3 linked regions of the Homo sapiens genome follow. The protein of the gene in region 2 interacts with the protein of the main gene of each other region in a pairwise test. Each region holds a gene or a part of one and is shown on either strand. Other genes may lie near its edges.

Region 1 (7,469 bases), on a different chromosome or scaffold from region 2:
GGACTACCACAGGTGTGACATGGGGCGCTCCTTAGTGCGTCCTGTCAGGAGGTGCAGAATGTCTGTTTGTCTTCGTACAGTGATGCCAACCTTGAACACTTGGTTAAGGTGCTGTCTGGCAGGTTTCTTTACTGCAGAATTGCCATTTTTCCCTTTGTAATTAATAAGTATTTTGTGGGTAGATTCACTGAGACTATGTATATATTTAAAACTTCACTCTGCCACCTGAATCAGTTATTACTATGATGTTTGTCACATAGCCAGTCTCTGACTTCCACATTATTTCAACATTTGTTTGTTGGCATTCTATTATAAGGAAGAGCTTTTCTTTCTTCACAGCTTATTTATCATTCATTTATTCCTATCAGTATGGGTTCAGGAAATTGTATTTTTCAAATACACTACAACCTGTTATTTTCATGGAAGCTCGGATTGTTCCGTATCTGCCAGTGAGAGACCCTTCCAGCTGGCTCCTGAGTCCTCAATGCATCCCCTTACGGTTTAACCACTTCCTGGCGCTACCACTTGCTGGTAAATCATCTCGACTTTCCAGCCTTAGACTCCTTCATCTTTAAACTGAGGGGACCAGGTGAGATGATTTCCAAGGTTCCTCCCAGTTTTGAAATTGCCTTCCTACTTCGTGCTTGTCTTCTGTCTGCCCCTTACTGATGCCTATTGCTAAAGTCACTGGAACTGGTAGAATAAAGGTTGGAAAACCAATAGGGATATTTGGACCATGCCTTGTAACAAATAAGGACGTGAAGGAAGGACAAGCTGTTTCTTGTATACCTCTATCCCTACTCAGGTCCTGAGAACCAAGGCTATTATCAGGGAAGCCCAACTCAGCCTGCACCGTCCTCTTCGCTGGAAATCTGTAGTTGGGACAGATTCACTATCAAAACAGATCTACCTCTCTTTTTGTCTGTCTGGATTCCATGATGTTGTCATCATTTCCGTGTCTTTCATACACTGTAGTTGTTGTTCTCTTTCTCTCTCTCCAAAGTAGTCATTCCCTAAACTTCCTGTGTCTAGAGGCAATAAAAAGGTGATTCCCAAAAGAAGTACAAACAGCCAGTTAACACATGAAGATGCTCAGCCTCATCAATTTGGGAGAAAAATGTGGACTAAATCAAGGAGAAATGGGCTAACTGACAAACTGACAAACTAAAAACCAAACAAAAACTCCACAATTTGTACTCAGTTCAACGTAAGGGGCATTTCTGCTCACATGTGCTGCGCTGAAAGTATGAACTGGTACAACCTCTGGGAGAGGCACTTCAATAGCTACTCACAGCCTCAGAATTTTGCATATCCTTTATACAGCAATCCCATTTGTGGGAATTTGTTTTGTGGAAATGTTTATGGGTATGTGCAAAGCTATCCATACAGGATATTCAGTGAGTAAGAAATTTACAAACAGCTAAATGCCCAATAAAGAGTGGATTGAGTAATGCAGTTATGATATAGTCATATAATAAAATACTGTGCAGCCATTCAAACTTATATCATAGAAGATGACATGAGAAGTTATTCGTAAATTGTTAAAACAGCAGCTGTAAACCTGCATGTAGTTTATGAACCTATTTTTGAAAAAGAAAAAATATATAAAGATAGATTCACAAAAATAAAGAATAAAGGGATATTTATCTACCTAGATATCTCTAGGCGGTAAACTTACAGGTGATTTTTAGTTTTTATCTTTTTGCTTATCTGTATTTTGACAATGAGCATACATTATTTTTGTAGTAAGAAACGTTACTGTAGAAAAGAATATGACAGTCCACCTTCTTTCAGCACTTTATGGTGAGCATGTATTCCTTAGCTTCCTCCTGCTAGGTCACAAAAGTGACTCTCCTTTGGCCAACTGTCTGGCTGTGTATTTTTGTCAAGAAAAATGTTGTTTTAGGGTGAAGGTATTTCCAATGCATGTAGGAATTGTGTGGAAATGCAAGCCCTTTGAGCTTTGACATTGATGGGCGTGCATCCTAGGTGTATCCTGGATCTTCTTCACAACTCTGTCCTTGTTCTTACCTTTCTTCCTCTGCTTTGACCCCTTCAGCTTTCTTTCTTCAGCCATCTCTCTTGCTGTTCTGACTATCTGTTGCTGCATGACACCCCAATAACTTAGTGGCTTAAAACCAAAACAGCCATTCATTTTTCTCATGAGCCTGCGGTTTTTGCAGAGCTCAGTGGGGTTTGCTCAGCTTTGCTCCGCACAGCATCAGCTGGTCTTGAAGGGTCTGGAGAATCTGCTGCCAAAATGGTTCACTCAAACTATCAGGCCTTTCTATGTGGGTCTTCTCTCCATGGGGCCATGTTGGCTTCCTCACAGCACTGTGGTTGGATTCTGTATTAGTCTGTGGTGCTGTCCTAACAAAATTCCACAGATGCTGTGGCTTAAAGAACAGAGTTTATTTCCTCACAGTTCTGGAGGCTGGAAGTCCAAGACCAAGGTGTGAGCAGGGCTTGATTTCATTCTAAAGCCCTCTCTCCTTAGTTTGTAGATGACTGCCCTCTTGCTGTGTTCTCACATGGTCATTTCTCCATATGCATGCCCATCCCTGGTGTCTTTTCCTCTTCATATATAAGGATACCAGCTGTATTGGACTAGGGTCCACCCTAACACCTCCTTCGAACTTAAATCACCTCTTTAAAGACCTCATCTTCAAAAACAGTTACATTATAAGGTGCTGGGGATTGGGACTTAAATATATGAATTCAGGGAGGTTGGGGAGGAGACACAGTTCAGCCCATAACAGGTTTCAAGAGTGAGTACCCAAGAAGAGACAGAAAGCAAAGCCACCAGTTCCTTTAGACTGTGGCCTGAAAACTGGCACTGTATCATTTCCTCCACGTTCTATTGGCCAAACAGTCATAAAGCCCAGATTCAAAGGGAATGGGACATAGACCCCCATCTCTGAATGGAAGGAGTATCAAATAATTTTGGAGCTGAGGTTTTGTTTGTTTGTTTGTTTTGAGACGGAGTCTCGCTGTGTCGCCCAGGCTGGAATGCAGTGGCACGATATCGGCTCACTGCAAGCTCCGCCTCCCGGGTTCACACCATTCTCCTGCCCCAGCCTCCCGAGTAGCTGGGACTACGGGCGGCCGCCACCATGCCTGGCTAATTTTTTGTATTTTTAGTAGAGATGGGGTTTCACCATGTTAGCCAGGATGGTCTCGATCTCTTGACCTTGTGATTCACCCATCTCCGCCTCCCAAAGTGCTGGGATTACAGGTTTGAGCCACCACGCCCAGCCTGGAACCGTGTTTTAAAACTGCCAGCTCTGCTTTGAGGATATGGCTGCTCTGAGATCACCTGGAGCTGGGAATCCAGTTTTCTGTTCTTTTTGTCCTATCCCTGAATGAAACTGTGCTTCTTGCTGCTTTAATCAAGTCTGTAAGTCCTGCTGATCTCATTTGCTATGCTAGTGCAGATGGCTAAGGAAAGTTTTGAATTGAGAGCTAAACTATAGTATTTGACAGCCTGGGCAACATGGCAAAATCCCATCTCTACCAAAAATACAAAAAACTAGCCAGGTGTGGTGGTGCACACCTGTGGTCCCAGCTGCTCAGGAGGCTGAGGTGGGAGGATTGCTCGAGCCCCCTGGAGGTCGAGGCTACAGTGAGCTGATATCGTGCCATTGTACTCCAGCCTGGGTGACTCCAGGTGAGTGAGACCCTGTCTCATACACACACACACATACACACACACACAAAGTGTACTATTTGAAAACACTACCATTTGCCCCTGTTGTGCCTGCATATGTAGTAGCTGTTCATTGGTGGGCAGCTGGGAAACCTAGAGAATGACTAGATGTCTGCTCTACTTTTTCTATTTTTTAAATTCTATTTCTTTTTTTCACCCTTAAATGTACTATAAATTGTACTTCTTATGTTTATTGTCTGTTTCATCTTACCAGATGTACATGCTACCACCCCAAATAGATCTTTGTCTGTTTTGTTCTCTGATACATCTCAAGTGCTTAGAACAATGTTTTGCACATAGTAGTCACTCAGTATTTATCAAAGGGATATAAAAGCGCATTGATTTTGTGTTTTGTGACTCTTAAGTTGTATAACTGGTAAGCCTGTTTTCTCTTCCTAACAGTACAAACAGGCCGTCCATGAGCTTGTGCGTTGCGTAGCACTGACAAGAATTTGCTATGGAGACTCACATTGGAAACTAGCAGAGGCACATGTTAATCTGGCTCAAGGCTACCTCCAGCTGAAAGGTAAGCTCGCCTTAGACTGAGGGGGATCAGTTGGTCGATTTCTGCTGTTCTCCCCAAAATTTGATTCACACTTAATTAGAAGGATCAGGTTTTTTAATATTCTCCTTTCTAAATACCAAGAAGCCATTTCTTTTTAGAAAGAGTTGATAAGGTATATAACCTGTAAACATTCAAAGGGGAAAAATGGAAAAAATATTTTAACTTTTCTGGTTTTTTTGTTTTTGTTTTTGTTTTTATGATTTCAAAAGTAAGGTTCTTAGGAGAAAATTAATCTGTTGGGCCAGAAGACTTTGTAGGAAAAAACCCAAGGTATGGAATAGGGGCCCAGAATGGGATCCATTCACACTTTTATTGGAGAATCTCTTGACTGTAAATAACCAAAAAATTTAAAAAGACTAACCCAAATTGGCATAAACAAAAGTTTTTGGCTCATACAACTTAAAAATTCAAGGGAAAAAATTTTTAGACTTAGCCATATCCAGTGTTCAAACAATGTGACCAGGATTCAATTTTTCTCTCTCCCACTGCTTGGCTCTGTTTTTCTTGGTATTTGCTCCATTCTTTGCCAGGTTTTGCCCACATGGTGGCAACAAGACTGCCTGCAACTTTAGACTTCCCTTATAAGCATTCCCAGGAGGAAAAGAATGTCCCTCCACCAAAATCCCGGGATTTGGGAAGGGTTCTAATTGGAACAACTTGGGTTGTATACCAAAGGCAAGGAATAGTCTGATTGGCTAAACCTTTCTTTTGGCTTCATTGGATCCTGAAGGAGAAGCAGGCCTTCGCCACATCTCATGGATTGGATGTGCAGGAGCCAGGCATCCCAAAAGGGAAACAGAGGGGAGAATGCGTGCAGGGGAGGCAAAAACAATAGACACCCAGGATATGATGATGGCTTCTACTTACTGACTGTGCAGCCTAAGACAAGATGGACAAGAGCATCTCTGTGCTCAGCTTCTTCAGCTGAAAAGTGATGATGATGGTAATGGTGATGCTAACTTTCCAGGGTTGGCCCAGTGAATAAAGAAAATAATAGAAGTGGAAAACACCAAATGCCAAGCATATTCTATACCAAGCGTATTCATTATTGCCACCCAATAAATTTGGCCAAATCTGATTATAGACTGGTCCTACCTATTAGATCAAAGGCTCTTAGGGACCTTGGAGATTATCTAATTTAAACTCTGCCCTCCCACCCCATTTTGTAGATTCAGGGAAAACAATGAGTCTGAGTTAGAACAGCTTTCCCCATACCACACTGTTAATAAGTAGCTGATCTGAGACTCAGACCTAGGTTTTCAATGCCAGTTTGTCCTGCCATCTGGGGTTTCAGACGATGCTTTTCTTATACAGCCTGCTGCCTCTCTGCGTGACAGTCCTTCTTTCTCAATTTAAAGTAAAAGTAGTATCTACCATTTATTAAAGTCTCATTTGGTGCCAGGCATGTTGTTTTCCATGCATAACCTTATTCAGTCCTCACCACAGTCCTCAAAGGTGGGTATTTTTAATATCCCTGTTTACAGCTGAGAAAGCTGAGGCCAACGTTTTATAATAAGTGGTGGAGCAGGGGATCCATCCTGGGCAGTCTGACTTCAGAGCCAATGTTCTTGAACTTCACCCTATGCTGCCTCCAGTAAATTGAGTTCAGGTTCCTTCAGGGACTCGACACAGTTGAAAATACAGTCCAACATGCTTTGTGTAACATCACAAGCACAGGTGGCACTAATACATGTCTGTGCTTTTTAAAAATATGTAATAAGACAATCTTGTGTAAGAATTCCCACATGAAACACATACCCTTGATTTTCTCCATTAGAAAATATATTCTTCCTGTTTTATAGACATAGGAACAGAATTAACTTCATATTTTGACAGATTTTTTTAGAGATCTAAGATACAATTTTGTGTAACTAAGAACATAAGATGGGGGCTGTGTGTATGTGAGTGGAAGTGGTTGTCGGTGTAGGGGAGGAGGATGGGAATACAGGGACGTGCAAAGCCCTGAAGCCGTGCTAGCGATCTCAGTCCTCCCTTCCCACAGATTAACAAGCCCGTGGAGGAACACTGGAACACACTGGGGAATTCTTTCTTAGTAGTGATTTTTTTTTGCTCCACTTTGTTTCATATTAGTCTCTTACCACATAGGAAGATGAAATTGTCACACATTAATCTGTTACCTCACTGGAATTGTGTTTGTAAGTTTTTGTAGATATCAGATATGTATTATGTTAAAAAAATAACTCTCTGACATTATGATTATAGGTGGGTGAGCTGAAGATTCAGAATTTTTAGTATTTCATTAAGATTGCAGTTACACAGCCAGGATTAAAATTCATGAATATTTTATTTCCTGCTCAGAATGCTATAGTTCTTGTATTCAGTTTGTTTCTTATAATTATATGTAACATATTTTGCTTCTGCTATTGGTGAGGTTTCAAAGCTGTTCAATTCCAGCTCATTTTGTTTATTTCTAAAAAGGCCATTTGGGGGAAAATTTATCTTGGGTACTTGGTATAAAACACTTCTTTGGTTGTTACAGTCATGGCAGTGTTTCATGCTGCCCAGATACGTCTCCATGTGTCATTTGACAATATGTGAAGGAGACCTTGTTAGATTCCCAGACCATAAGGAACTGTATTCCTGTCCAGTTGAGATGATAGAGAAACTGAGACCTCTTTTTCTTTGTCCACAGGACTGTCACTGCAAGCAAAACAACATGCAGAAAAAGCCAGACAAATCCTCGCCAACTCCATTGTGCCTCCCTATAGTGAGAATACAGATGTTTTCAAGTTTTCCATTGAGCTTTTCCATACCATGGGCAGAGCTTTACTCTCCCTTCAAAAGTATCCTTTTGCCTCTAACTTTTACAAATAGAAATACTATTCACGTAACACTTACACGCCAAGTAAAAAGCTGATGCTGATGGATGACTTAGGAAGTGTGATTGGAAGTATGGGAGCCAAGGAAGTTCAGGACATGGGGTGTAGAATCTAGAACCAAGTGGAAAATTTCCTGAACACAATTCAGATTTAAGGAAGCTGCAGAGAATTTGACAAAAGCAGAGAGACTTTCAAAGGAGCTGCTACAATGTGGAAGAATTATAAAGGAAGAATGGATAGAAATTGAAGCACGGATCAGATTATCATTTGCACAGTAAGTTTCAAGTTTAGGATTTTGCATACATGATGGCGGGAGGCTCTTTGCCTGTAGAATCTGTCTCAGGTAGGAGGAGCATCT
Region 2 (7,137 bases):
ACCACTGAGATCCACCAAAGGAAGACAGAACTGGCCACCGGACTTGGCAAGATAGAGACAGATGTGAGAGACGAGCAGCCTTCCTAGAGAACAGGGATGAAAGGGCAACTGCTTAGAACAGGGGCAGCACAGAGGGGCAGGGGCAGCAAGAAGGGGGTCTGGACAGAGAGAGCTTATTTTTCAGAAGGGGGACAAAGCCTCTGCAGGCCAAGGAGAATGAACCAGCAGAGGGGGAGAAATTCTGCAGCAAAGAGATGGCTGCAGGACCATGCAAGAAACAACAGGACCTGAAATACAAACGGAGAGAGGCAGGATGAGGAGCACAAACCCCTCTGCCTTTGCTGGATGGGACACAACTACAGGTGCAGGAAGCTGACAGGCTGGAGGACAGGGTGGTGACAGACAAGCCAGTCTTCTGACGCCCAGACTTTCACAGGGAAGAATGGGGTCAAGGCAGTAGCTGAAAGGGAAAGTCAGGGGGAGGCAGCTGTAGCAGGACTGCTGGGCAGCACTGACTGTCCATTGAAGATGTGAAGTGAGAAGTTTAAAGTGAAACCGGCCGCCAAGGTGGTGTCACTCTTTCAAAACTGTTCAGTTGCCGGGTGCGGCTGGGTCAGCCACTGGATACAGTAGGCATTAAGGAGGTAGCAGGGCTCAAGCAGTGGGAGGTTCTGCTGCTCCTCCTCTGAAGCCATTACCAGAGCTCCAGTACTTCATTCAGTTTATTCATTCCTAGAATACAGACTGAACTTAAAGGGATGATGACAATTATTATTTTTTATTTCAGAGGCAGTCTTGCTCTGTCACCCAGGCCGGAGTGCAGTGGAGCAATCATGGCTCACTGCAGCTTCAAACTCCTGGCCTAAAGTGATCCTCTTGCTTTGGCCTCCCAAGTGTTGTGATTACAGGTGTTAGCCACTGTGTCTAGCCAATGAAGAATGTTATCCAGTAGCCAATAGCAGAAAGAACCACCATTTAAGCAAGAATTTATTTCCAGGACTATGTTTTTACTATAGATTAAAATTTAATATAACTTAATTCACATATAAAGACAACTCTGAAGACCATCTGGATATGATAATGGCCTGGGGTTAAGTGAAATAATTGAGGTCATGCTCAGGCCTGAGCAGATACCAACTTGCTCAAGCCTGAGAAATAGGACTTCTCTCTTTCACTCATCACTTCAAAATGCAGTGGCCTCCTGCAGAAGTTGCACTCAGCTGAGGAATGAGGCTTCAGTTCCAGCCCCACTTGCTTCCATGTGACTAGCAGATTCTCTGAGGAGAAACAGTTTTTAAATATTAAAGGGAGTAATATACACAAGAGAAATGAAAACATATGTCCACACAAAAACTTGTACACAAATGTTCATAGCAGCATTATTCATAATAGTTAACAAGAGAAACAACCAAATGTCCACCAATAGACGGATAAACAAAATGTGGTAAATCTGTACAATGGAAGGTTATTTGGTAACAGAAAGAAATGAAGTGCTGATGAATGCTACAGCATGGATGAGCCTTGCAGACATGATGCTGGAAGAAGGCAGACACAAAGGAGCACAGGCGGTATGATTCCACTTAGACACAAGGTCCAGAAAAGGCAAATCCATAGAGACAGAAAGAGCCGTGGTTGACAGGGGCTGGGGATGGGGAAAAGAGGAGTGACTCCTAATGGGTAGGGGCTTCTGAGGTGATGAAAATGTTCTAGAATCAGATAGAAGTGATGGTTGCATAACACTGGGAGTGTACTTAAAAATCATAGACTTGGATACTTTAAAAGGGTGAATTTTATGGTAAGTGAGCTATATCTCTACTGAGATAAGGCTTTTATAAAAATTTTAAGGCTTTTATAAAAATAAATAAAGAGAAAAATAAAACCCAGAGTTGGGCTTGATTTCACAGGCCTGTAGGGAAGAAGCTGCTCCAACACTGCCACGTGACAGTTTAAACCCAGCATTTCCAACAGAACAGAGAGCCTGTGAGGAAGCTGAGCCACGCTGGGCGGGCTTGGGAAGGCAATGTACCTTCGAGGCAGAGGTGACCTGTGGCTAATAGCCCCCTTCCATCTCTGCCTTTAGGTTGGACATGGGTGGAGCAGTATAGAACCACGGGGCAGTTGAAAATATTGAGCAATTCCTCTTATCAGAGGCGATTAGGTGTGGGGTTATTCAAGGATTATACAACATCATGGAGTAGAGGGCAGTGGTGAAGACAAATGTGAGGTGGACTCCGGAGGGACAGCGGGGACTCAAGCCTTCAGAGGCCTCTTCTCCCTGCAAGTCATTACTGTGCATCCTTCAGCCACGTAGACAAGGGGGCACTGGAAACACTGAGCGGATTCCCAGGCTCCCTCAGAGCTCCCAAAATGACTCTCCACCCTCTTGATGTGAATCAGACAATAAATACCTTTTAGGGTTTTGAACCATTTGAGGGCATGCTTAGTTACTTGGAAAAAGAAGAAACAGGCCGGGCACCAGGGCTCACACCTGTAATCCCAGCACTTTGGAAGGCTGAGGTGGGTGGATCACCTGAGGTCGGGAGTTCGAGACCAGCCTGACCAACATGGAGAAACCCCATCTCTACTAAAAATACAAAATCAGCCAGGCGTGGTGGCGCATGGCTGTAATCCCAGCTACTCAGGAAGCTGAGGCAGGAGAATCGCTTGAACCTGGGAGGCAGGGGTTGCGGTGAGCCGAGATTGTGCCATTGTACTCCAGCCTGGGCAACAAGAGCGAAACTCTTGTCTCAAAAAAAAAACTAAAAAAAGAAGAAGAAACAAATCTGAATGCCTCTGAAGGGCTTCAATTATAAACACTGCAAAGACAGCTTTATGCAACTCCTCAGTGAGGCACCAGCAGCTCCCCAGGTACTCACCAAGGAAGTAGTTCATCATCTGGGGTGTGTGGTGAGGGGTGGGGGCAATCCGTAGGAGCTCTTCTCCCCGGGGCACCGTAGGGTAATTGATTGCTTGCACGTAGATGTTATGTCTGCTCATTAGTTCATCACAGACTTCTGTGTTTTTAGCAGCATCTGCAACCTAAGTTCAATGAGAGCAGAAGGTAAGGTCACAACAGGAAGGACTACCTCTTAGCAGAGATCCTAACGAACGCAGTCCCCACAACGCTCAGGCTCAAGACCAGACTGTAGCAACACATGCAAGCTTGGGGCAGAGGGAAAGCGCTGCCCAAACACCTGTCATTTAAAAGAAGCCAGTGTTGTTTCGTGAACACCAGGGAACCAAAACCTTATTAAAAAGAAATACATTTTTAATCAGAAAACACTGGTTCTGTTCGTACCAGCAGACTCTCATACCCACGATGTATAATCTAGATTCAGTTATACTAGCTGTATTCATTACACTAATTCAACTGTGACATCAACAGTGCTACCATTTGTAGTGGGAAGGGCAAAACCTATTTTGAAATTTACTAAGTAGAAAGCCATACTTCAAAGCTGGCCAAGCTCAGGCTTCTGGAGCTTTCTAGATACAAGCTCTGTGTTTACCCTGTTAAGGTCAGTGCTCCGGAGAGGGAACTTCTGCCCCAGCCTGCTGGGTTCAAAGGCTTTCTTCTCTTGGTGAAGTCAGCCAATGGCGGAAACATGACAGAGGGTGGCTGGCTACAACCCCTGCCCTGGCAGTCACCCCGCTCAAGCCCAACTTCAGGAAGGTATGAAGCAGAACATCCGTACATCATGTGTAGAGGCACACCCCACGGCAAGTCCAATCAGAGACAGGCCATTACCCGCACAGGGATGATGTGGCTGGGGCAGTGGACAACAGGGAGGCCGGCATCCATTAGCATCTGTCTCATGAGTTTGACGTTGCGCTGGTGCTGGCGGCGAAGCACCCGTCCCTCAGCGCTCTTCAGGATCCGCACAGACTCCAGGGCTCCAGCCAGCAGCATGGGTGGCAGAGAGGTGGTGAAGATGAAGCCAGCAGCATAGGACCGTACGGTGTCAATCAGAGAACTCGTGCTGGCGATGTACCCTCCAACACAACCAAAGGCTTTGCCTGGGAGGAGATAGCTTCATTAATTACAGCAACAGCTGTAAATTGCTCTAAATGGACACAGCAAGGTGTTGTGGAGCCTCAAAGCACTGACTTTTCTCCTTATCTTTTTAATTTGTTCCTGGACTGATTGGAGTAGTCATGCACCACATTAATGATGTCTCAGTCAATGACGACCACATATATGATGGTGGTCCCATAAGATTATAATACTGTATTTTTACTGTACCTTTTCTATGTTTAGGTATGTTTAGATACACAAATACCATGGTGTTGCCAACAGTATCCAATACAGTAACATGTTGTACAGGTTTGCAGCCTAGGAGCAACACGCCATACCACAAAGCCTAGGTGTGCGGTAGGCTATATAATCTAGGTTTATGTAAGTACACTCTATGGTGTTTGCACAATGATGAAATCGCCTAGTGATGCAATTCTCAGAACACATCCCCCATCGTTAAGCAATGCATGACTATAAAAGGATATCTAATCTTCCTTTTTTTTTTAGAGACAGGGTCTTGCTCTGTCACCCAGGCTGGAGTGCAGTGGCATGATCATAGCTCTCTGCAGCCTCAACCTCCTGGGCTCAAGTATTCCTTCCGCCTCAGCCTCCCAAGTAGCTAGGACAGGTGTACACCACCATGCCTGGCTGATTTTTTAAATTTTTATTTTGTGTAGAGAGGAGGCCATGCTTCGTTGCCCAGGGCTGGTCTCAAACTCCTGGGTTCAAGTGATCCTCCTGTCTCAGCCTCCCAAAGTGCTGGGATTCAGGTGTGAGCTATCGTGCCTGGCTACTCACTTTTAAAAGGGTAAAAAAGCTAAGGAAAGTTACAAAAGGGTCTTGCCCAAAGTCATATGGCCAAGCTGGTGTCTAACCAGGATCAAAATGCAGGTCTTCCAATCAGACCTGACACCTCAGTGACTGGTCCCAGTGTGCCCAAATACCCTGCTGCTGCCTCCCTTCCCACCATCTTATTCTCCTTTCCCTTTCTCACCCAGGCTTGCTGCTCTGACAGCCAGCACAGCTCCACTCCCCATGTCTGCACTGCATGTGCTCTTTGGAACAAGACTGGCTCTGCAGTGCTTGTACCATCCTCCCACAGGGAACATTATCCCAGAGGCTGGAATTTTACCCAGCTAAGGCATTAACTGTTTTGGTATGACTGGTGTTATTTCCTACTTAAGAACAAAACTCTTGACAATTAATGCATTAGGATTGATTTAGGGCCAGACTTGGTTTTCAATTCTCATTGAGTCCTTTTGTGTGATCTACATCTCAAGTTTCAGGATTAAAAACTCCAGAAGAGGCCAGGTGCAGTGGCTCACACCTATAGTCCCAGAACTTTGGGAGGCCGAGGGGGGCAAATCACTTGAGCTCAGGAGTTAGAGACCAGCCTGGCCAACATGGTGAAACCCCGTTTCTACTAAAAATACAAAAATTAGCCAGGCATGCTAGCGCACACCTGTAGTCTCAGTTATTCAGGAGGTTGAGGTGGGAGGATCACTTGAGCCCAGGAGGTGGAGGCTGCAGATGAGCTGTGATCACACCTGGGCACAGAGTGAGAGCCTGTCTCAAAAAACAAAAAGAACTCCAGAAGAGTCTTCATAGATCTTAACATAACATTCTATAATTAATGTTTTTGCTAAAACCACATGCAAAGCTGGGTTGGTTCAATCTCCTATGGTATAAAGTTTCTCTCTCCAGCCTTTTCCATCTCACAATGACCATACCTTCAAAGAGCCCACATCAGGAGACATCCTTAAAAGAAAAGAGCTTCTGGCCGGGTGTGGTGGCTCACGCCTGTAATCCCAGCACTTTGGGAGGCTGAGGCGGGCAGATCACGTGGTCAGGAGATTGAGAACATTCTGGCTAACACGGTGAAACCCCGTCTCTACTACAAATACAAAAAATTAGCCAGGCATGGTGGCGGGTGCCTGTAGTCCCAGCTACTTGGGAGGCTGAGGCAGTAGAATGGCATGAACCTGGGAGGTGGAGCTTGCAGTGAGCTGAGATCGCGCCACTGCACTCCAGCCTGGGCAACAGAGTGACACTCCATCTCGGAAAAAAAAGAAAAAAAAGAAAAGAGCTTCTTGAATTAAGACACATGATCAGGTGTTTTTCTCCTGGTAGTGGTTCCACCCTTAGAACTCCCAGGCTTTCTGGGTCTGCACTAGGTTCTCATACCCCTTGACAGTGCTGAAGGACGCTTTTTAAAAAGCCTGCCCTTCCTTTACCAAGCATAGGCTATAAACTGGCATTTTAGCTAACTGCTAGATGGGTTTCCAACTGCCTTACCCACTTCTGAAGGCTTAAAAAAATTCTTCAAAATTACAAAAATTCTTCAAATTTATGTAATTTTCGTCTCTTTAGGGTTCTCATAGGTTCTCAGAGGGAATGTTTATAATAACTGTTTGCATACAACTTATTTACCTTCTCCACATATATTTTGATTTAGGTCCTATTGTTTTCTCCATTATATTGATGATGAAACTGAGGTATAGAAAGGTTAACTACCAACTCAAGGTCACACAACTAGTGAGGTGGCAGGGCTCCAAAGTCTAGCTCCCATCTACCACGAGACATAGCCTCTGTATGAGGAAGAGCAGAGGAAAACCAGGATGAATTAGAATGTTCCCACGTGGCAGGCACGGAGTTCAGCACTTCACAACACCTGAACCTAACAAGTGCTCCAGGAGAAAAGTACTAGAATTCCTTTTTCTTTTTAATTAAGAACAGCCTGAGGCACAGAGAGTACAGGCTCTTGCCATGGCATGGGGCTAGACCCACAACTATGTCTGAAATGAGCTCAGATAGCAATAAATGGTCTATCAGTGTGTTAGGCTGTGGGATTTACTTTGATTCTAAGAGCCATGCCTCCATGACCCAAGGGATTCCACTAAGCTGGGCCAAAAGAAAGAGTGGCCCAGGCTTCATATGCTGTCAGGCTGTCTCCTCACCTGATCCCAGTTAGACTAGTTAGTCCTTGGCCTTGTTAGGATAATGGAATTTTAGTGTATGTAATACAATGTATACATACCAAGTGTTCCAGAAATGATGTCCATTTTTGGCATGACTCCATCCCGATCCCCAATCCCTCCGCCTCGAGCCCCATAAAGCCCCACTGC
Region 3 (7,469 bases), on a different chromosome or scaffold from region 2:
TGAGGGATGGGCTCAGGTAGGCCTGAATGCCATCTCTGCCAGGATGTGCTGTGTGACCTGGGTGAGGGGTAGAACCTCTCTGAGCCTCAGCTCTTTACCTGTAACGTGTGGGTGACAACAGTGCCCACTTTGTGAGACTTCTATGAGGACTAAGTTGTGACCACTTAAATGGTGCTCAGTGAATTTTAGTCATTGTGCATGTTATCACTCCCCAAAAAGAGAGGTGTCCAGGCAGTGCTGAGCTTCTCAAGCAGGAGCCAAAGGCCCAGCAGACTTCATCCTGGGACGGGACAGCAGGCAGGGGGTAGAGGGCGGAAGTTGTCCCCACATGACTGCCACTCCGTCCATGGTGCTCATTTCAGGCAGCACAAGAGGTGACCCAGCCAGGTCCAGCTCTGCCTGCAGGCCTGGCATGAAAGCCCAGGCTGTGGGCCATCTGGGGCAGGAGGCTGGAGGGCAGGAGCCATCAGCCCGGGGCTGAGGTGTACGCGTGGCTGCACTCTGTCTTGGTCTCATTATTTTATAAAATAGAAAAATGTGATTGGTTTCAAAAGGGTTCTCTAGATTTAAAAAAAATTTTTAATCAAACTTTTTACTTTAATAAAAGTGAAATTTTGCCTGTGGTTTGGGGAAATGAAACCCTGTGTCATTTTGGGTGCAACGCGGAGGCCCTGCAGCAAGGTTGCCTGGGTTCAAATCTCCCCTCCGCCGGGTGCAGTGGCTCATGCCTATAATCACAGCACTTTCGGAGCCTGAGGTGGGACGACTGCTTGAGCCCGGGAGGTCGAGGGTGCAGTAAGCCATGACTGCACCACTGCACTCCAGCCTGGGTGACAGAGTGAGACCCTGTACCCACCCTCCCCCACAAAAAAAAGAATTCCCCTCCACCATTTACTAGCTGTGTGGCCTGTGCAAGTGGCTCGGCCCCTGAACCTCAGTCTGTCCATCTGTGAAGTGGGGTTAAATGTCAGCAGGTTGCTGGGAGGCTCCACTGTCCTCACACGTGTGAAGGGCTTAGGAGTGAGAGCCTGGTCCGTGAGACCTGCCAACCAGTGCTCAGCTGCCATTGCGATTTTCCACTCTGGTTTTGGCGTCAAAGTCAGGCCTGGTGGGTCATGGCCTTGGGTGTCCCCTGGGCAGCTCAGATGGCTTACCTGCTGGGCATAGCCTCGGAACATTGGGTTGACCAACTTGATCCCATGAGACAGACTGGTGGGGACCACGTAGCTTGGCCTGTAGGAAGCCCAAACCCATTAGTCCAGGTAGCCTGCCTTGAGCTGCTCATTCCCGAGAGAAGCAGGCAGCCAGCCCGTCAGGCTGGATCAGAGTGTGGCGTTTCCTGACATTTGGGGAGGGGCCTACTCAGCCAGGAGCCCCAAGAGGCTCACACATCTCTACAGACAAGAAGAAAATGTCAAGTCATAGCTGCCTCAATTAAGCAAAGAGCTCAAATAAAATAGCATCATTTCCTTCTGGTGCACAACAAACTCGCCTAAACATGATTTGTTTTCATTCTGAAACACTTACTGTGGTTTTCTCATTTCAAAAGTAAGACATGTTCATTATTGACAAATCTAAAATTTCAGAAAAGTACAAGAGAAAAACACCACCACCAATGGCACCAGATACTTACCATTAGATTTCTGGTTCTGTGAAACTACAGATGCATATACAAAAATACATACAGATACACATTTAAACTTGGCTTCTTACACAAGCGGAATTATATTGTACCATGCTGGGTTTTTTTTTTTTTTTTTTTGGGACAGAGTCTTGCTCTGTTTCCCAGGCTAGAGTGCAGTGGCATGATCTTGGCTTGCTGCAACCTCCGCCTCCCGAGTTCAAGTGATTCTCCTGTCTCAGCCTCCCAAAGTGCTGGGAATACAGGTGCGCGCCACCATGCCCAGCTAATTTTTGTATTTTTAGTAGAGACGGGGTTTCACCACATTGGCCAGGCTGGTCTCGAACTCCTGACCTTGCGATCCACCCGCCTCGGCCTCCCAAAGTACTGGGATTACAGGAGTGAGCCACTGCACACAGACTTTTTTTTTTTTTTTTTTTTTTTTGAGACAGGGTCTCACTCTGTCGCCCAGGCTGAAGTGCAATGGCATGATCAAGCTCACTGCAGCCTGCCTCAACTTCCTGGACTCAAGCGATCCTCCCACCTCAGCCTCCTGAGTAGCTGGGACCACAAGTGCTCACACCACACTCAGCTAATTTTGTAGTTTTTGTAGAGGCGGGGTCTTGCTGTGTTGTCCAGGCCGGTCTCAAACTCCTAGGCTCAAATGATTCTCCTGCCTCGGCCTCCCAAAGTGCTGGATTTACAGGTGTCAGTGACTGCATCTGGCCCCACGCTGGTTTTTAATCTGCTTCTACATTTAATACATATTTCTCCCATGCTGGTTTGTTTTGTTTTTGTTTTTTTTTTTTTGAGACAGAGTCTCGCTTTGTCAACAGGCTGGAGTGCAGTGGTGCGATCTCGGCTCACTGCCACCTCCGCCTCCCAGGTTCAAGTGATTCTCCTGCCTCAGCCTCCCGAGTAGCTGGGACTACAGGCACACGCCACCACACCCAGCTAATTTTTGTATTTTTATTAGACACGGGGTTTCACCATGTTGGCCAGAACGGTCTCGATCTCTTGACCTCGTGATCCACCTGCCTCAGCCTCTCAAAGTGCAGGGATTACAGGCGTGAGCCACTGCGCCTGGCCCTACGCTGGTTTTTCATCCGCTTCTACACATAATACATATTTCTATGTGCTCATTTAAAATTATTCCCAACTTTGACTTTTCCTGGAGAAACAGATCTAATCACAGACTCTGATCTTTAAATTAATTTCATACTGTGCCAGAAGCTCCATCCAGTCTGTGCTCCCCTGCCCCACACCTCCTTCTACACACACAGTCCTGGCTGAGGCCGGGTCACCATGTCTCTTGGCAAAGACATCTACCAGTGGCTGCTCGGTAGGGTCAACAGTAGGTCAAATTCTAGCTCACTTTTTGCAGGTTCTATGACCTTGAGCAAGATACTTAAAGTGCTCTGCACCTCAGTTTCCCTATTTGTAAAACAGGACTGGATGCAATTTCCACCCCGCAGGCTTGCTGCAAGCATTACCCGGGACAAAGTGAGGCAAGTCCTCGCTGGGGGCTGAATCCACAGGAAGTACTCAATCATGGGTGCTGACAGGAAACCCCAGTCCCCACACACCGCCCAAGGCTAGGGATGCAGCTGCTCACCGTTTCTTATGCCAGACCTCAGAGACCAGCTTCTGGTAGCTCTTGCACAGGGCTGGCTTCTTATCTGTGCGCACCAGGCCGCCACACTCCAAGAAGAACTGAGTCAGCGGCGGGCTGGGTGCAGGGGAGAGAGAGCCAGGTCAGGAGAGCAAATGAGGCATGCGGCAGTTTAGAAAGGGCTGCATAGCGGGGAGCCCTGAGTGCTCGCACAGGGAGCACAGTGGCCCTGGACCCAGAAACTCCTGAAGGTGACTAGAAGGCTCCTACCAGTTATGAGAAAATTGTATCCTCCAAAATTCATCTGCGAAGCCCTAACTCCCAGAGACAGGGCATTTTTATTTTATCTCATCTTATCTATCTTACCTTATTTTTTTATTATTATTATTATTATTTTGAAACAGAGTCTCCCTCTGTTGCCCAGGCTGGAGTCCAGTGGTGCAATCTTGGTTCATTGCAACCTCTGCCTCCCGGGTTCAAGTGCTTCTCCTGCCTTAGCCTCCCGAGTAGCTGGGATTACAGGCACATGCCACAATGCCTGGCTAATTTTTTTGTATTTTTAGTAGAGACAGGCTCTACTAGTTGGCCAGGCTGGTCTTGAACTCCTGACCTCAGGCGATCCACTTGCCTTGACCTCCCAAAGTGCTGGGATTACAGGCGTAAGCCACGGTGCCCAGCCAAGACAGGGCCTTTAAAGAGGTTATTAAAGTTAAAACGGATTGGGTGCGGTCAATTTTTCTTTTTTTTTTTGAGACGGAGTCTCGCTCTGTCACCCAGGCTGGAATGCAATGGCATGATCTCAGCTCACTGCAACCTCCGCCTCCCGGGTTCAAGCGATTCTCCTGCCTCAGCCTCCCCAGTAGCTGGGACTACAGGTGCGTGCCACCACGTCCAGCTAGTTTTTTGTATTTTTAGTAGAGACAGGGTTTCACCATGTTAGCCAGAATGGTCTCTATCTCCTGACCTGGTGATCCATCTGCCTCGGCCTACCAAAGTGCTGGGATTACAGGCGTGGGCTACTGCGCCCAGCCTGGGTGTGGTCAATTATTAACAATAATTGACCTGCATCCTGCCACCTGAGGATAGTTACTAGGAACATTTTGGGACATAGCCTTCCAGACTTTTCTACGCATTTGTACCCATTCCCTCTCTGCTTCCCGCATACATATACTGCATCTCTAACCTCCACTGGGTAGGAGAAGCACGTCAGACACAGGAGACATCCTTGGCCTCATGGAGCTCACAGCCTTATCCTTAATGGAAAATCGCATTTCTCCCATAAAACGGGATTGTACCATGCAATGCTTTATAACCTCCTTTTTCCCCCACTCACCAGATTCTGAACCCCTTCTTGTTTCAATGCATGTTGTCTTGTGCCATTTTTCCTGCACTTGCTGCAAGGGCTATGAGAATTTATACTCTCTTGCAGATGGGCCTTTAAATCATTTCCAGTAAACAACAGAGCACTGAGCCTCCTTGCACGTACAACTTCCCCAGCATCTCCGGTTATCTCCTCAGGATACATTCTGACTGGGAGGATTGCTGGGTCAAAGGGTATACATGCTTTCAGGCATTTTGCTGTGCATCCTATACATGTGTTTGTGGGCAACCGGCTGGGGGCTGCTACTGCTGCTGTTTCCGGGGCTTTGCCAGGGACAGCTCTCGGCCCTCGGACAAAGTGTCGACCTACCAATTGGACAGGGCCTGCAGGGCAGCGTTCATGTAGCAGGAGTTCCCGAGGTTCTTCATGCCCGTGAGGCCTGGGAAATAAACACAACGGGGAGGAGCAGGTGAGCACCCTGCCCCACCGAGGAAACCTTGCAAGTCACATTTGGCACAAAGGTGTGGCTCTCAACTGCCCAAGACCCAAGAAGAGGACATGGTGGAAGCGTTCCACCCCAGGAATCTTCCCAGTAAACTAACGTGGTTCCTGCTCACAACAGCTGCGGTTACCTGAGTGTTTTAAACAGATGAACTCCTTTGCCCCTCCGCCCAGCCAGGCCCACTGTCCAGACCATACAGCAGAGGGGTCGGCCTGCCCAGGGTCACCCAGCTGGGAGAGGGGACAAGATAGCCAGCTCTCCAGAACCTTAGCTAGGCCAGCCAACTTCTGGGGTGAAGCCACCATGCTAAACAGCTTATCCGTCACCCCATCCTTCCTTGCCCATATAGCAGGTGCAAATAGAGACCAAGACTCTGGCGGTTTCCAGCCTCCAGATGAGGGCCCCCAGCCCAGCCCATCAGCTTCCCCTGCTGTGGGGGCCATTACCTCGAGGTTTCAGGTCATCGTCCTCTGACTCAGACTCTCCTTCATCAGCCACAGCAATAGGAACAGCTTTCAGAGGGTGGGAGGGTGGCGGGGAGTCCTGTGTTAAAGACCCAAAGTGAGGAAAACAGTGAACAGAGGGGCTGGGGTCAGAGGCCCAGGTGTCTCCCAAGGGCTGGAAGTCCAGCCCTACTGCCCGGAAGGCCCTACTGGGCTGAGCCAGTCCAGCTGAGCAGAAGGTACTGTGAAAAGAGATAGGATTGGTGGCCTTGCCCTGGGAACTCCTTGATTTGTGTGTGTCTGTGTTTTTTTAGAGACAGGGTCTTGCTTTGTCACCCAGGCTGGAGTGCAGTGGCACAATCAGAGCTCACTGCTGACTCCAACTTCTGGGCTCAAGGGATCCTCCCACCTCGCCCTTCTCAGTAGCTGAGACTACAGGTGCATGCACAGCACCCAGCTAACCTTTTTATATTGCCCAGGCTGGTCTCAAACTACTGGGCTCCAGTGATCCTCCCAAAGTGTTAGGATAACATGAGCCACTGTGTCCAGATGTTGACTTGCATTTTTTTATTGGCAATAAAAAAAATATTTTATTTATAATAAATTTGGAGAAAAATAGAAACATAAACATGCAACCCCATTTTCCTGAGAGAACTGCTGTTAATAGTCTGTATGTATCTTATGTAGACGTTTTTTTTTTTCTTTTTGAGACAGAGTCTCGCTCTGTTGCCCAGGCTGGAGTGCAATGGTGCAATCTTGGCTCACTGCAAGCTCCGCCTCCCAGGTTCATGCCATTCTCCTGCCTCAGCCTCCTGACTAGCTGGGACTACAGGTGCCCGCTACTATGCCTGACTAATTTTTTGTATTTTTAGTAGAGACGGGGTTTCACCGTGTTAGCCAGGATGGTCTCGATCTCCTGACCTCGTGATCTGCCCGCCTCGGCCTCCCAAAGTGCTGGGATTACAGGAATGAGCCACCGCGCCTGGGCTATGTGGACTTTTTTTAAGAGATAGAGTCTTGCTCGTCGCCCAGGCTGGAGTGCAGTAGCACAACTATAGCTCACTGCAACCTTGAACTCCCGGGCTCAAGTGATCCTCCCACCTCAGCCTCCCAAGTAGCTGGGATTACAAGCATGCGCCACCATGCCTAGCTAATTTTATTTTTTGTAGAGACAGGGTCTCACGCTGTTGCCCAGGCTGGTCTCAAACTCCTGGGCTCAAGCGATCCTCCTGCCTTGGCCCAGCAAAGGGCTGGGATTACAGGCATTAGCCATGGCGCCCAGCCTGTATTATACAGACTTTTAACTGTTAATACACATGCACAACAAAAACAAGATATTGCATATACTGTTTTATAGCCTTTTCTATAAAAATTCATAAATATCTACCAAGTTCACAAATGCATTCAATAAGCATTTTGAGCAATATTGAGCCCTATCATGTGACTGTCTAAACAGAAGGAGAGGCCAGGTGCGGTGGCTCCTGCCTGTAATCCCAGCACTTTGGGAGGCCAAGGCAGGCGGATCACTTGAGGTCAGGAGTTCAAGACCAGCCTAGTCAACATGGCAAAACCCTGACTCTACTAAAAATATGAAAATTAGCCAGGCATGGTCGTGGGCGCCTGTAATCCCAGCTACTCAGGAGGTTGAGGCAGGACAATCAGTTGAACCCAGGAGGCAGAGGTTGTAGTGAGATGAGATTGCACCACTGCATTCCAGCCTGAGCAACAGAGCGAGACTCGGTCTCAAAAAATTAAAATAAAATAAAATAAAATAAAATAAATGGAGGAGAGAGCCATGCAGATGCTGCACACATGTCCTGGCTTCTCCTCTAGCAGGCAGCTCTGCCATCCAGGATTACTGACCATTCCCTGAGGACACACCTGGGGCCGGGCCCTCCAGGTCACAGGCTTGCTGACCTGCCATCTCTAAGGTTGCACAGCACACTGTTGATCAAAGGACCATTCTCTGG

The links. The genes of interacting proteins can lie anywhere in the genome.
Region 1: the proteins of ALAS1 (region 2) and TTC23 interact in binary tests that used the Homo sapiens proteins (3 or more experiments, as listed by UniProt).
Region 3: the proteins of ALAS1 (region 2) and USP20 interact in binary tests that used the Homo sapiens proteins (3 or more experiments, as listed by UniProt).

What each region holds. Positions count from the first base shown.
Region 1 is NC_000015.10:99,218,504-99,225,972, reverse strand, and holds part of TTC23 (tetratricopeptide repeat protein 23), read left to right. Parts: intron 1-426; exon of another isoform or gene 427-589; intron 590-4,108; coding exon 4,109-4,232; intron 4,233-6,924; coding exon 6,925-7,075; intron 7,076-7,259; coding exon 7,260-7,385; intron 7,386-7,469. UniProt on the Homo sapiens protein: Participates positively in the ciliary Hedgehog (Hh) signaling.
Region 2 is NC_000003.12:52,208,160-52,215,296, reverse strand, and holds the end of ALAS1 (5-aminolevulinate synthase, non-specific, mitochondrial isoform 1 precursor), read right to left. Parts: coding exon 7,050-7,137; intron 4,015-7,049; coding exon 3,746-4,014; intron 3,040-3,745; coding exon 2,877-3,039; intron 1,289-2,876; coding exon of another isoform or gene 1,278-1,288; coding exon 1,117-1,277; 3' UTR 970-1,116; downstream 1-969.
Region 3 is NC_000009.12:129,859,067-129,866,535, reverse strand, and holds part of USP20 (ubiquitin carboxyl-terminal hydrolase 20), read right to left. Parts: intron 5,600-7,469; coding exon 5,503-5,599; intron 4,994-5,502; coding exon 4,924-4,993; intron 3,351-4,923; coding exon 3,237-3,350; intron 1,234-3,236; coding exon 1,155-1,233; intron 1-1,154.